Linked DNA regions of Homo sapiens: regions 1 and 2 are each linked to region 3. The links come from fine-mapping of genetic effects on gene expression. A gene starts in region 3. Each other region holds a variant in brackets. All regions are shown on one strand. Distances are from middle to middle.

The links. PIP is the estimated chance that this variant, and not a neighbour inherited with it, causes the effect. A credible set is the group of variants that fine-mapping cannot tell apart.
Region 1: its variant is the best candidate, but not a certain one, in a credible set for the expression of CCDC7 in thyroid (GTEx, PIP 0.69).
Region 2: its variant is the best candidate, but not a certain one, in a credible set for the expression of CCDC7 in minor salivary gland (GTEx, PIP 0.74).

Annotation. Positions count from the first base shown.
Region 1 is chr10:33,071,467-33,075,711 of GRCh38, reverse strand. The region is part of intron 2 of ITGB1-DT (ITGB1 divergent transcript); the gene reads right to left. IATPR (ITGB1 adjacent tumor promoting lncRNA) reads left to right here. Exons shown (of 3, transcript NR_160030.1): 2 at 729-850; 3 at 1,466-1,686. Among named protein-coding and RNA genes, the nearest start is that of IATPR, 43 kb to the left of the region's middle. The variant C/T (reference allele first, on the strand shown) is at 2,274.
Region 2 is chr10:32,896,262-32,900,506 of GRCh38, reverse strand. ITGB1 (integrin subunit beta 1) reads left to right here. Exons shown (of 16, transcript NM_002211.4): 16 at 1-189. Among named protein-coding and RNA genes, the nearest start is that of SNORA86, 3.1 kb to the left of the region's middle. The variant T/C (reference allele first, on the strand shown) is at 1,816.
Region 3 is chr10:32,443,892-32,448,136 of GRCh38, reverse strand. It overlaps CCDC7 (coiled-coil domain containing 7), which reads right to left and starts at 1,997. Exons shown (of 44, transcript NM_001395015.1): 1 at 1,740-1,997. LOC101929431 (a long non-coding RNA gene) reads left to right here and starts at 2,081. Exons shown (of 3, transcript NR_120660.1): 1 at 2,081-2,524. RefSeq lists a silencer at 1,827-2,056 and an enhancer at 2,127-2,446.

The sequences.
Region 1 (4,245 bases), 630 kb before region 3:
CTGTGGGACCTATCATTAAGAGAAATGAAATGCAGATTCAACAGAACATATTGTAAGGTTGCATTTGGAGGAAAAATAAATACTTCTTGTGTGTTTCTCACTAAATTCATACCGTTTAATAAACCAATTACATTTACAAACATGCTGAACTCTCAACAGAGTGGTCTGAACTCTTGGGAGTAGACATAGTTCCAACTACCACAGAGAGTGGAAAAAAATTCAGAGTGGCCTTTCAACCAGAGCCCAGACACTGGAGTCTCAAAAATGTGTGCAAATGTACCGGGCACAGTGGCTCATGCCTATAATCCCAGCATTTTGGGAGGCCGAGGTAGGCGGATCACTTGAGGTCAGGAGTTCAAGACCAGCCTGGCCAACATGGTGAAACCCTGTCTCTACTAAAAATACAAAAATTAGTTGGGCGTGGTGGCTCGAGCCTATAATCCCAGCTACTAGGGAGGCTCAGACAGGAGAATCACTTGAACCTGAGAGGTGGAGGTTGCAGTGAGCCGAGATCCTGCCACTGCACTCCAGCCTGGGCAACAGAGCAAGACTCCATCTCAAAAAAAAAAATTGTGCAAAAGTGTGTGTGCACATCCATGAGTGTGTGTGAGACAGGGTGTGTTTGCATGTGAGCATGTGTGTGCAGAGTGAATATCAGGGTATCCACATGAGTGTGTGTGTGTATGAGGAACACATGAGATTGAACGTGTGTAATTGTATATCTCCAGTGACAGCACAGAGGAAGAGATGGTCCAAGACCAAAGAGGAAAGAAATGGCATAAGATGGGACAGTGTTCTATGATCTCTAACTGGCCAAAGAAAAATGAGAAACAAATTTAAAAGAAGACAGGTAAGTAAAGTAAGTTTAGCTGTAATTTGGATTCTCATTTAGGAACCAGGGTCTTAATCTAGAGGGAGAAGGAACTCAACATAATGTACTGTAATGGGGGTTTCCAGACTTGCTAACTTTATTCTCTCCCAAGCCATTTGTCTCTCTGTTAGTTTAATAATTTTCCACAGCTGCTGTGTAATATAACTACTGATGTACTACTGAGCCAATTTCTCCCAGCCAGTCCTACTGCCAGAGAAACTAATGGGAAGAGATAGCGCCAGGGTCTACCCTGCAAACCTGCAAGGGCTTGCAAATTGGGTCACAGTTTGCTCGTTGCTGAAGGGAACAGCACACACAGGCTGCCATCTCCATTTAATTTTTTTCTTTGTCTTGCAAACAGCAATATCTTTCTTTTGGAATTCTGAAGAAATCGATTGCTTTCATATTTCCCTGGCTCTTTAAGGAACAAAAAGCAAGTCCTGAAAAGTAAAGACATTCCTTTTAGGTCCAACTCACAGAAATTGTGGTGCAACAGCAGTGTTCGATTCCAGAAAGAGCAGGGATTCTATTTCTGTCAGTCTTATGTCTCCCTGAAACCATTTTACGATTATTTTGTGTCCTCTGTTTTCCCAGTTGGATGACTTAAACACCACCCCTGAGAGGCAGCTGTTTCCAGAATATTGCACAATTTATTGAGTTCATGAGAATCGTGATCGTTGGCAGCACCGAACTTCACGGAGGGAATCATAGGCACTTTAATTCCAATTTGTTGACTTATGGAGGAAGAAATTTCTCCCAGTGGTGTCCCTTCATCCAGGAACAAGAGCCATCAAAGTGTCACAGACTTAGAGCCGGAAGGGCTCTCCGCTAGTGTTTCTGCCAGTCCTCTTGGTTTTACACATGAGGAAACTGAGGCCCAGAGAAGTTACCCAGTAGCAGATCTGCAAGTCACCCAGTAGCAGATCTGCAAGGAGCTCTTAGCAATCCTGACTCCAAGTGTAATGCTCTTGCATTAGCTCTGTGCTGCCTCCTAGATGTTGGTCTTCTTAATGTTGATAGCACATTTGCTCAAATGTTTGCTAATATGGTTTGGCTGTGTCCTCACCCAAATCTCATCTTGAATTGTAGTTCCCATAATCCCCACTTGTCGTGGCAGGGACCCAGTGGGAGGTAATTTAATCATGGGTGTGGTTACCCTCATGCTGTTCTCATGATAGGGAGTGAAGTCTCACGAGATCTGATGGTTTTATAAACAAGAGTTCTCCTGCACAAGCTCTGTTGCCTGCTGCCATGTAAGAAGTCCCTTTGCTCTTCCTTCATCTTCCGCCATGATTGTGAGGCCTCCCCAGCCATAAGGAACCATGAGTTCATTAAACCTCTTTTTTTATAAATTACACAGTCTCCAGTATGTCTTTATTAGTAGCGTGAGAACAGACTAATA[C/T]ATTTGCCCTGCAAAACTTCCTTATTCTTAAGCAAAGTGATTTCCAAATTTTCTTCATTAGACACATAATTTAGAACTACGATTAACTAAACACTAACTGGGTGTCAATTACTGTACTATTTCCTGCACATGGACACATTTAGGGTCAAAGTACTGTACCAAGTATAATTTTCCTAGAAGCTATAAAATGTAGGGTATCAGTGAATGGAAAAAATAGAACATTAATTAATAAAAGAAATCTACTACAGAGAATCTTTTCCCCCTAAATATAACCATAGAGACTAGGCTGGTCATTATTTGCAGTTCACAAAAGAAAGAGGCTACAGAAATATTCACAGCTATTGAACGAGGTGGCTGGCAAGTGAATTTGGTGTAGGTGCATAAATTTGTGTGCTGGGGGTGTGTTATAAAAGAATAAAGTCTGGGTTCAGCTGGGTGATGGCAGGAAAAACAGGATCCCAGAAGGAGGCTGAAAGAGTTGGGAACAGATGGAATGACTGGCCTACATGTCAAGTCTCTTCAGCTGCCCACCTGGCCACAGAAAAGGCAAAGCTCTGCAAATGGATCATCTCGTTCTTACTGTAACACATAACAAGCAGTGGGCAACACAAACTCACCTGTGTCAATGGAAAGAGTTAAACTCTGTGACATATTTCAGAAGCTTTATTCTGAGTCAGATATGAGTGACCAAGGCCCGTGACACAGCCCCAAGAGGTCCTGAGAACATGTGCCCAAGGTGGTTGGGTTACAGCTTAATTTTATATCTTTTAGAGAGACAGAAGTTGTAGGCAGACATCAATTAATACATGTAAGGTGTACATTGGTTGGGTCTGGAAGCAGTTGTGGGGGACAGGCTGGGAGAGTGGGTATGGCTTCCAGGTCATAGTGGATTCAAAAATGTTCTGATTGCCAATCAGTTGAAAGCGTTAAGTTATTATCCAAAGACCTGGAATCAACAGAAAGGAAAGTCTTCTAGGTTAAGATAAGGGGTTGTGAAGACCAGGGATTTCATTATGCAAATGAAGCCTCTAGGCTGTAGAGAGAATAGAGAACAAATGTCTTTTATCAGACCTAAAAACTTGCCGAACCCTTAGTTAAATATCTCCCAGATGAGGTAAAGACCTAGAAAGGGAAGAGGATTCTCTACAGAATGTAGATTTCCTCACAAAAGACAGTTTTTCAGGGCCATTTAAAAAGATGTCAAAGAAATCTATTTTGGAGTAAAATACTTCAGTGTCTTTCAGGGCCTGCCATCTGTCCTATGATGCTATACTAGAGTCAGGTTGGAATTTGGTGTCTTCCCACTACAAAGAGTCTGCTTTGTCAGTCCTAAGATCTCTGTTTTAATGTTAACCCTGGTCAGTTGAGCCTGAATTCCAAAGGGAGGAGGGCATAAGGAGGTCTATCCAACAAGCCCCTCTTCCCATCACAGCTTGAACTAGTTTTTCAGGTTTACTTTGGAATGCCTCGGCCAAGAGGGAGATCCATTTAGTCATTCTGGAGGCTTAGAATTTTATTTTTGGTTTACACCTGTTATTTACCTTTTTTCTGCTACACTGGCAAAATAACCCCGTCTGCCCCTGAAAAAGGCTTCCTGGTAATCTCTCTCAGGAATCAGGGTGATTTCTCTAGTTGTTGGCGAGTTTGACAGATTGCAGGGGAAATGCTGCTTCATAATCCTGCTCCAGATGTGTTCTGACCCTAGAAGTGAACACCGAGAGCGTTCCGGTCCAACCCTACAGGAGACCAGGGAAGGAGCACCACCCAGAGAGAGAGTTCCGTACCTAAGTGCACCTTCATTTGGTATTTAAAAAAAAAAAAAAAAAAAAAAAAACAGCAAAGATGAAGGAATGTTGACAGGGCCACATGACATCAAACTAATCAGCAAGATCCCCCTCCAAGAAGTGTCTGAGTTCAAGGAATGAAAGTATTCTAATCAAACACAGAGCTTGAGAGGAGTATAAAAGACTTG
Region 2 (4,245 bases), 450 kb before region 3:
TTGTTTCACACTAGTCACATTCTTGTTTTAAGTGCCTTTAGTTTTAACAGTTCACTTTTTACAGTGCTATTTACTGAAGTTATTTATTAAATATGCCTAAAATACTTAAATCGGATGTCTTGACTCTGATGTATTTTATCAGGTTGTGTGCATGAAATTTTTATAGATTAAAGAAGTTGAGGAAAAGCATTTCTGGTTGGTGGGTAGTTCACTTATGAAGCTAAAACATAATTCTTTAAAAAAATGTACTAGGGACATAAGGAGAGTGGTATGGTGAAATACAGACTTGAAGACTGTCCTTGGGCTCTCTGAATCATGGTGGATAGATCCTTACTTATCCTGCTACGCTGGGAGAGAGGTTTCATCCCAATATTAAGCAGAATTAACTTTATGAACATCTTAGAGCCATTAGTAGGTGCTGGAAATTGTATCATTTTATTTAAGATATAGATAGGGGATTGTTAACTTTTCTGATAAGAAAAATTAGGAAAAATTTTACTTTTATTTGGCTTTGGTTTCTGTTTGAAAGGATATATCCATAAGTACTACTTGTGTAAAGCTTATTAGAAGAAATATATGCTGCTTTCTTAAGCATACAACAAATGTCAGAAATATTTGGAGGAGAAAAAGTTTCAGCCTTACTAGCCTTTCACATTTATACAATCCCTTCACATCCTGTTAATCTTCTTTTACTTACTCCATTTAAATGTGTTTCATAGCTTAGACTAAAGCATATTTGAGGTGAGAATTACACATTTTTAGTAGTTTGTAAGATCCATGAAAAAAATTATCTGTATTTATTACTCTCTGTCACCCTGTTTCATCTTGTTTTCCACCATCCATAATTCCACTTAGCTTAATTCATTTCCCTGTGCCTTAGGCATAATCAATAGTTGAATTGCATATTTCTGCTCCAGAACTCTGCTCTTATAATGATATTTTAAAAATATATTAGAACAAAGTAACAAAGTCTATCTTCTATATGTACATAATTTTTTTTTCCAAACACGTGTTTGAGGCTGGAATGTGGTGAATTTTTAGATTTTATATTACAATTTATAGCAGACAAAAAGATTTTCTATAGGAATCCCTTTGTTGGAAGTTGGAGGAATTGTATACAAGTTTATTTCTCATGCTGATTATAAGAGCCTAAAATACTTAAATCGGAAGACTCAATTTGACATTTGAGTAATTCTAGGCTTGAAACTGGCAATTTCAAAATATAGTCTGAGAAATTGATAATAGTATATCTATCTCTATGTAGATACACACACCACACATTGAGATGCTTTGACTGAAGCCACATAGAACTTGGTCACTAAAATACTTATTCTCCCAGCAGGAGTACATTTTGATCTCCAGTGAGACACTTTCCAAAAAGCAAGAGTCCAGGAAGCAAAACAACAATTAGAACTTTTTTTTCCATTTAAACTATACTATAGAAATTTACAAAATATTAAGTATCATGAGTACATTGTTTGGCTAATGCCAAATAGTGGCATATTTTACAGTGATTCCATGACATTTTAAAAGTTTTCTTACTCTTTTCCAGTCTTACTTTATGAATTTCCTTAAAACAGGCACCCAGGTAAGACCTTGAGCCACAAGAACAGTTCATAATACCACTTAAAAAGTCACCTGTGATCAGCTTTTTGTTTGAACCTGGAATTTTTCCTTTCTGTTTTTCACTACAGTTTGAGAGATAACCTTGAGTAGAGGCCATTTGTCTTTAGTTTATTCCTTGGAGGCTTAATGTTTACATTTTTAAATGTTCATTTTTGTAGATTCCAGGGGTACATGTGCAGGTGTGTTACA[T/C]GGACATGTTGCATAATGGCTTCTAGTGTACCCATCACCTTAGTAGTGGCCATTATAGTCAATAGGTAATTTTCCACCTTTCACCCTCCTACTACCCTCTCCCTTTTGGAGTCCCGGGAGTCTGTTCTTTCCCTTTGTATGTCCATGTTTACCCACTGTTTAGCTTTCACTTATGAGTGAACATGTGATATTTGATTTTCTGTTTCTGAATTGTTTCACTTAGGGTGATCCATCCATGTCACTGCGAAAGACATGACTTCATTAAGGCCTAGATATTTCTGATCTGATATGCTCAAAGAAGTTCAGAAACAGAATGAGTATCTCCCCAGGACTCCTTTTGAGCCTATAAAGATCCTTCACTGGCTCTTTAGAATTTCTCTCATGACTCAGGATTCTTCTGAGAATTTAGGGATAGGTGGAAGTGGCTTCTGAGTGATGAGTGGGAGCAGATTTTCAAGGTGGATTAGGTCTAGATTAAGTAGCCCATCAAGTCTCCACTGCTCTGAGGGTGGTATGTCATCTAAGTGTGAACCTTTAGGGTACAAAAATGGTAGGAGAACCATGAGACAAATACTAAGTTCACTGATACGGCAATTCTTACCTTCATTTGCTTCTACAATTAAGTCTTCACTGTACTTTTAATTAAGATTTTAAATTTTTGAGGGTATAGAGTTTCCATAAAAAGTCATCAGTGATAATAAATTTTATTTGACTTTCTACTTATTCCGGATTCTAAAATAGACTGACATATAAACACGTTACTTATGGATCACTTTGAGAGAGGAAACACTATTCAGAAGATTTAAATCCCAGAATTTAATCCATTGCTTTATTGCAAGTTTACAGAAGACTTGTCTTCAGTTTTATCTGCAGTAGTTGATCTATTGACTTTAAATGTTGAAAACTTATACTAATGTTGCTTACTGTCCAAAATTATTCCTGGGAGATAAACATTCAGATTTTCTACAATAACCACTGACTGGCCCCTTAGCAGCCATTTTAAATGTAAATTTGATGATATTGCCCAAACATCCCCAGTCCAGTTCAACTTTCAGATCCTCAAGCCTACCATAGTCCTTTGTGTTTGATATTTCTTTCTTATCCTTAAATGTGGTAGCTCCATGAGCACAGGGACCTGTGTTTTGATTCACTGTCTGCATACTTCACTTTGCAGAACATTTTTAAGGTCCATGCATGTTGTAGCATGTATCAGAACTAGACTCCTTTTATGGCTAAATATTCCATTGCCTGCGTATAGCATATTTATCCATTCAGTTTTCAATGGACACTTGGGGTGTTTCCACCTTTTGGCTCTTACGAATAATGCTGCAATAAATATTGTCATATAAGTATCTGTTCAAGTTCATACCTTCAGTTCTTTTCATTATATGCCTAAAAGAAGAATTGCTGGATCATATAGTAATTGTGTTTTGCTCTTTGAGGAACTGCCAAACTGTTTTCCACAGTGGCTGCACCATTTTACATTCCCACCAGCAATGTATGAGGGTTCACCAGAGAACCCTCAGAACAGAACGGAACAGATACTTCATCAGAGAAGATGAATGGCAAAAAAGAAAAAAATGGAAATGCAAATTAAAATCACAATGAGATACCATTAGATACCCACTAGAATGGCTAAAGTTTAAATGGCTGAAAATACCAATTGTATCCTTAGAACAACATCTGGCACAAAGTAAGGTGTAGGTGACCAGTAAGTATTTGTTGAGTAGATGGATTCATTTCTGTAATTTGCTACCATGCCCACCTACCTGTTAGCATCTGCAGTGACATACTGGCCTTCCTGCCAGTTCTTATAGATAAACTCTCCAAGGGCAGACCTTCCACTTGTATTCGTCTTCCAAACTCCATCACCTCTTGCCTGCTAAGACAAGCAGTTCTCTCCTCTCCTGCATCATCAAGTTTTCCCCTCTTCTGGGTCATTCCCCTCAGTAACAAACATACCATAGTTACCATCTCTGTTTCTCTCTTTCCTTTTACAACTCAGGAGTTGTCTAAGCCATACACCTGTGACCAATTGATGTGTGACAAGGTTTCCAAGTTTGTTCAATGGGGAAAGAAAAATCTTTTCAACAGATGATGCTGGAATAACTGGATTTCCACAAGCAAAAGAGTGAAGCTGGACCCCTAACTCTCACCATATACAAAAATTTACTCAAAATGGATCAGTGACATATCTAAACATAAGAACTCAAACCATCAGACTTTTAGAAGAAACATAGGAGTGTACTTCATGACCTTTAATTTGGCAAAGGGTTCTTAGACAAGACACCAAAAGCATAAATAACAAAAGATAAAACATAAATTGGACTTCATCAAAATTAAAAATATTTGTGCATCAAAGGACATTATCAAAAAAGTAAGGCAACCTACAGAATGGGAGAAAATACTTGTAAATTATATATCTGATAA
Region 3 (4,245 bases):
TTTCGATGAAACACTATAGTTAACACTATAGTTAACTGAATGCATAGTTGCCAAGCATAATTTTTAAATCATAATCAAATATGACTTTGCAAAAATAACTTGTCACTAAAAATCCATTTGAAGGAAGAACACAATGCTCTCTTGGAAATTACTGATGATAATAGTAAATAAACACATTATAGAACTTGAACCAAAGCCCCTGCAAAATATTCCCTTTTACATTTTTCGTTTTTTTGAGACAGAGTTTCGCTCTTGTCGCCCAGGCTGGAGTACAATGGCACAATCTTGCTCACTGCAAACTTTGCCTCCCAGGTTCAAGCGATTCTCCTGCCTCAGCCTCCCAAGTAGCTGGGATTACAGGTGCCCACTGCCACGTCCGGCTAATTTTTGTATTTTTAATAGTGACAGGGTTTCACCACGTTGGCCAAGCTGGTCTCGAACTTCTGACCTCAGGTGATCCTCCCACCTCAGCCTCCCAAAGTGCTGGGATTACACGCCTGAGCCACTGTGCGCCCTGCTCCCTTTTACATTTTTCTCATGCCGATTGTGACACGATGCTTTCAGTAAAAATTAATGATACAAGCAAAATGATGCAGAAACCAAGATTAAATTTACAAAATTGAAAAGCCTCAAAAGAATTCTGAATAAATTACATTGCCAAAGAAACTCCATCAAAACCTTCAGGTCCAAGCAAACATCAAAAATTCCATCAAAACCATCAGGACCAGGAAACAGGACGTAAGAAGAGTGGCCAATGAGCCAATAAGTAAAACCAAAAGGTTATATATACATAGAAAGCAAGGAAAAGAAAATATCACCAAGGACCGAGTGATGAACTACGTCAAATGCTGAGTCAAGTAAAATGAAGACTAAGCTGACACTGGATTTGGCAACATGGAGGTAGGTCATTTGTAACCTGAAGAACGGCAACAATTTCAGTAGAATGATCGAGGTAAATATCTGACTTACCGTTCAAAAGAGAGGAAGTAGGAACAATGAATTGAATATAAGCACTGTAGAGAAATTTTACTATAAAAGGGAGTAAAGAAATACAGTATTACTAGAAGAAAACATGGTCAAGAGGAAAGTTCGATGGAAAAAAGAACAAGTGTATATGCTGTTATGGATTGCATTGTGTCCTCTCTCCCCAAAAAAGTGTGAGGGAGGGAGGGAGGGAGGGAGGGAGGGAGGAAGGGAAGAGGGGAAGGAAGGAAGGGAGGGAGGGAGGGAGGCAGGCAGGCAGGCAGGCAGGCAACGCTCACTTGGTGCAAAAAAAAAGAACCTGACAAATGCTCCGATGAAGTTCACATAAATACAAAAATAGTCACACGCAATGAATACTCGTATTAGCAAGCAAATATTTAAGGACTTTACATATTTAATTCATTTATCCCTCCTAACAATGCTAGGAAGTGGATGTCAGCATTACTTCGCCCAAGTGCATCCGTCCCTTTCCGCCACCACGACAAATGTTTTCTGGTTTCATCCTTCAAGGATTAACTTACATTCATTTCAAATCCTTTAATGATAAAGTGTACAAAATAGAGGAGAGCGGCAGGGGTTGGCAGGGGACGTAGGGAAAGGATGATTTGCCTTCGATCCTACATCCTGCATAAAAAGCAGCACAACCGCCACGGAGGCAGCCAGGCAGCGGGAAAACTAAGTGCAAAGCCAGGACTCTCCCGAAACCCTCAGGTCCTGCTAAGGGAGCCGCTCCCGAGGCTCCCCGCCCTGTGTACCTGCTGAGACTGTGGGAAGTCGGGTGACTGGGCGGTTTGGCCTTGCTGGCTCTAAGGTGAAAAACTATTTGCCTGAGGAAGATGACAATTCCGAGCCTGCCAGACTTCCTTCGAGACGGAAGCCTGAAAACTCCTCAGACTCCAGCACCTCCCTTTTACAAACTGACGTTTGTGCTGAAAGAAAAGGCCCGGCCTCTGCGCCCCCGGGCGGCAGCAAAGACCGCCGGGCACCCGCCGCCGGCGCCGGATGGGGCCGTTGAAGCCACGTCCCAGGCGCCCGACGCCACGACGCCTTGGCGCCGCCGGCGTCGCTGACGCTGCGAGCGTGAGCTGCGCGCCGAGAGCGGAAGAGGAGACGCAGTTTGGCGGCTGTGGGGATTTGCCGGAAGGTTAATAATGTCCATGGGCACATCGGCCTCCTCCTTTCTTATTCTCTCCCAAGTGTAATTCCAGGACGCCCCCTGAGCGCAGATTCATCCAGGCATTTGGCCTAGAGGCCCGCGGAGGAGAAATAAAGTACAGGCCTGGTAGGACCTTTGAGAACCTGGGCTTCAGCTACAAAACCAGAGCCCCAGTCCTTCATCTGCTGTCTCCTCAAGCTCTTTTCAGTGTATTGTGGAGTTCATTACCACTCTAAGCTCGCACGGAAGTGTACACCAGCTTCGTGATCTTAAAAGCAAAACAAAATCAAATGGACTAGGAATTAACTTGAAGCAGAGTTGTGACACTTAAGTGGTTTCTTGCCATCAGTTTCCACGCACTGCTTTAAGATGCAATTTTACAAGGTAGAGTTTTTTAGATAATTTGACCTCAAGAAATATATTAATTTTGTCTTTAAGTTGAACGAAGTAAAATGTTTTTAATATTTTAAAATATTAATTGATACAATTTAACTGTTAATAATGCCTGTGTGTAAATGAAAGGAATAGGAAAGATGGAACTAAAACTAAAAACCAGGAGGTTTAAAGGAGACCTTAGATTTGACTTAGTAGATTTCAACTATTTTCTAAAACTCTGAAAATTCATTATATCTAATTATTTCTAATTTTCCAGTAAAATCTGAATGCCTCACAAGAGATTCCTGAAAATTTATCAGCTCCCAAGAGCTGGTGTAGGCTAGCTCCATCACACCACTAGGAGTTACCATTGGGGTTGCCTGGAAAGGGAAAACAACACATCTTCTGGTGTACCAGAAATGTTCTGTCTTCTGCTCTTTCTGGGTGTGTTCAAAAATTCATGAAGGCAGGCTGGGCGTGGTGGCTCGCACCTGTAATCCCAGCACTTTGGGAGCCTGAGGCAGTGCATCACTCGAGGTCAGGAGTTCGAGACTAGCCTGGCCAACATGGTGAAACCCCATCTCTACTAAAAATACAAAAATTAGCCGGGCGTGATGGCGGGTGCCTGTAATCCCAGCTACTTAGGAGGCTGAGGCAGGAGAATCACTTGAACCCAGGAGGTGGAGGTTGCAGTGAGCCGAGATTGTGCCATTGCGCTCCAGCCTGGGCAACAGAGCGAGACTCCATCTAAAAAAGAAAAAAAAAAAAAAACATGAAGGCATATGCTTATTTATGCACTTTTCAGTATGTGTGTTTTATGTCAGTAACAAAGAAAATGTACATATAAATGATCAGATTTATTAAGCTTTCCACCAACAATTTTTTATTTTTTAAAGTTGGCAATAAAATTAAGAAAGTAGTTTAGAAAGAATTGAATTGCTAAATTCCAAATCTCCCAAAACCGTTGTAAATGAAAGGGATAGGAAAGATAGAACTAAAAGTCAGGAGAGATTAAAGAAGACCTTAGATTTGACAAAGCCAATTTCAGTTATTTTCTAGAACCCTGAAAATAGATTACATCTAGTCATTTCTAATTTTGTTGGTAAAATCTTAACGGTCAAGTTGTCAAGTTAGCATACATTAGCAAAACTCTCAGCATGAGTCTAGCCAAAAGTTCACCATTCATATCTGTGGCCTTAATAGCACAGCTAAGAACCACAGAAAAGTTATCAGTGCTGACAATGTAAAGCAAAGAAGTTTAAAAAGTTAATAAATTTAAGCATGTAATATCAAATTTTGCAGTGGTTTGAGTCTGTGACATGAATCGATTATTCTTTGAAAACAAACAATACTTATGAATAGAGAGGAACTTTTTCATCTGATGAAGGACATCTGTGAACTATCTCCAGCTAACATCATTTTCAATAGTGAAAAATTGATTTTTCCTTAAGATTGGAAGGAGGCAAGGATATTTGCTCTCACTATGTCTATTCAGTATTATACTGGAGGTCTTAACAAGTGCAATAAGGCAAGAAAAAGAAATAAAGGCATAATGATTTCAATGAAAGAAATAAAGCTGTATTCCCAGACAACATACAATTTCCAGACATCTACAATGAAAACTATATAACATTACTGAGAGAAATTAAAGAAGATCCAAATTAATGGAGATTATGTACCATATTAATGGATTAGAAGACCCAATATTGCTAAAATGTCAACTTTTTAAG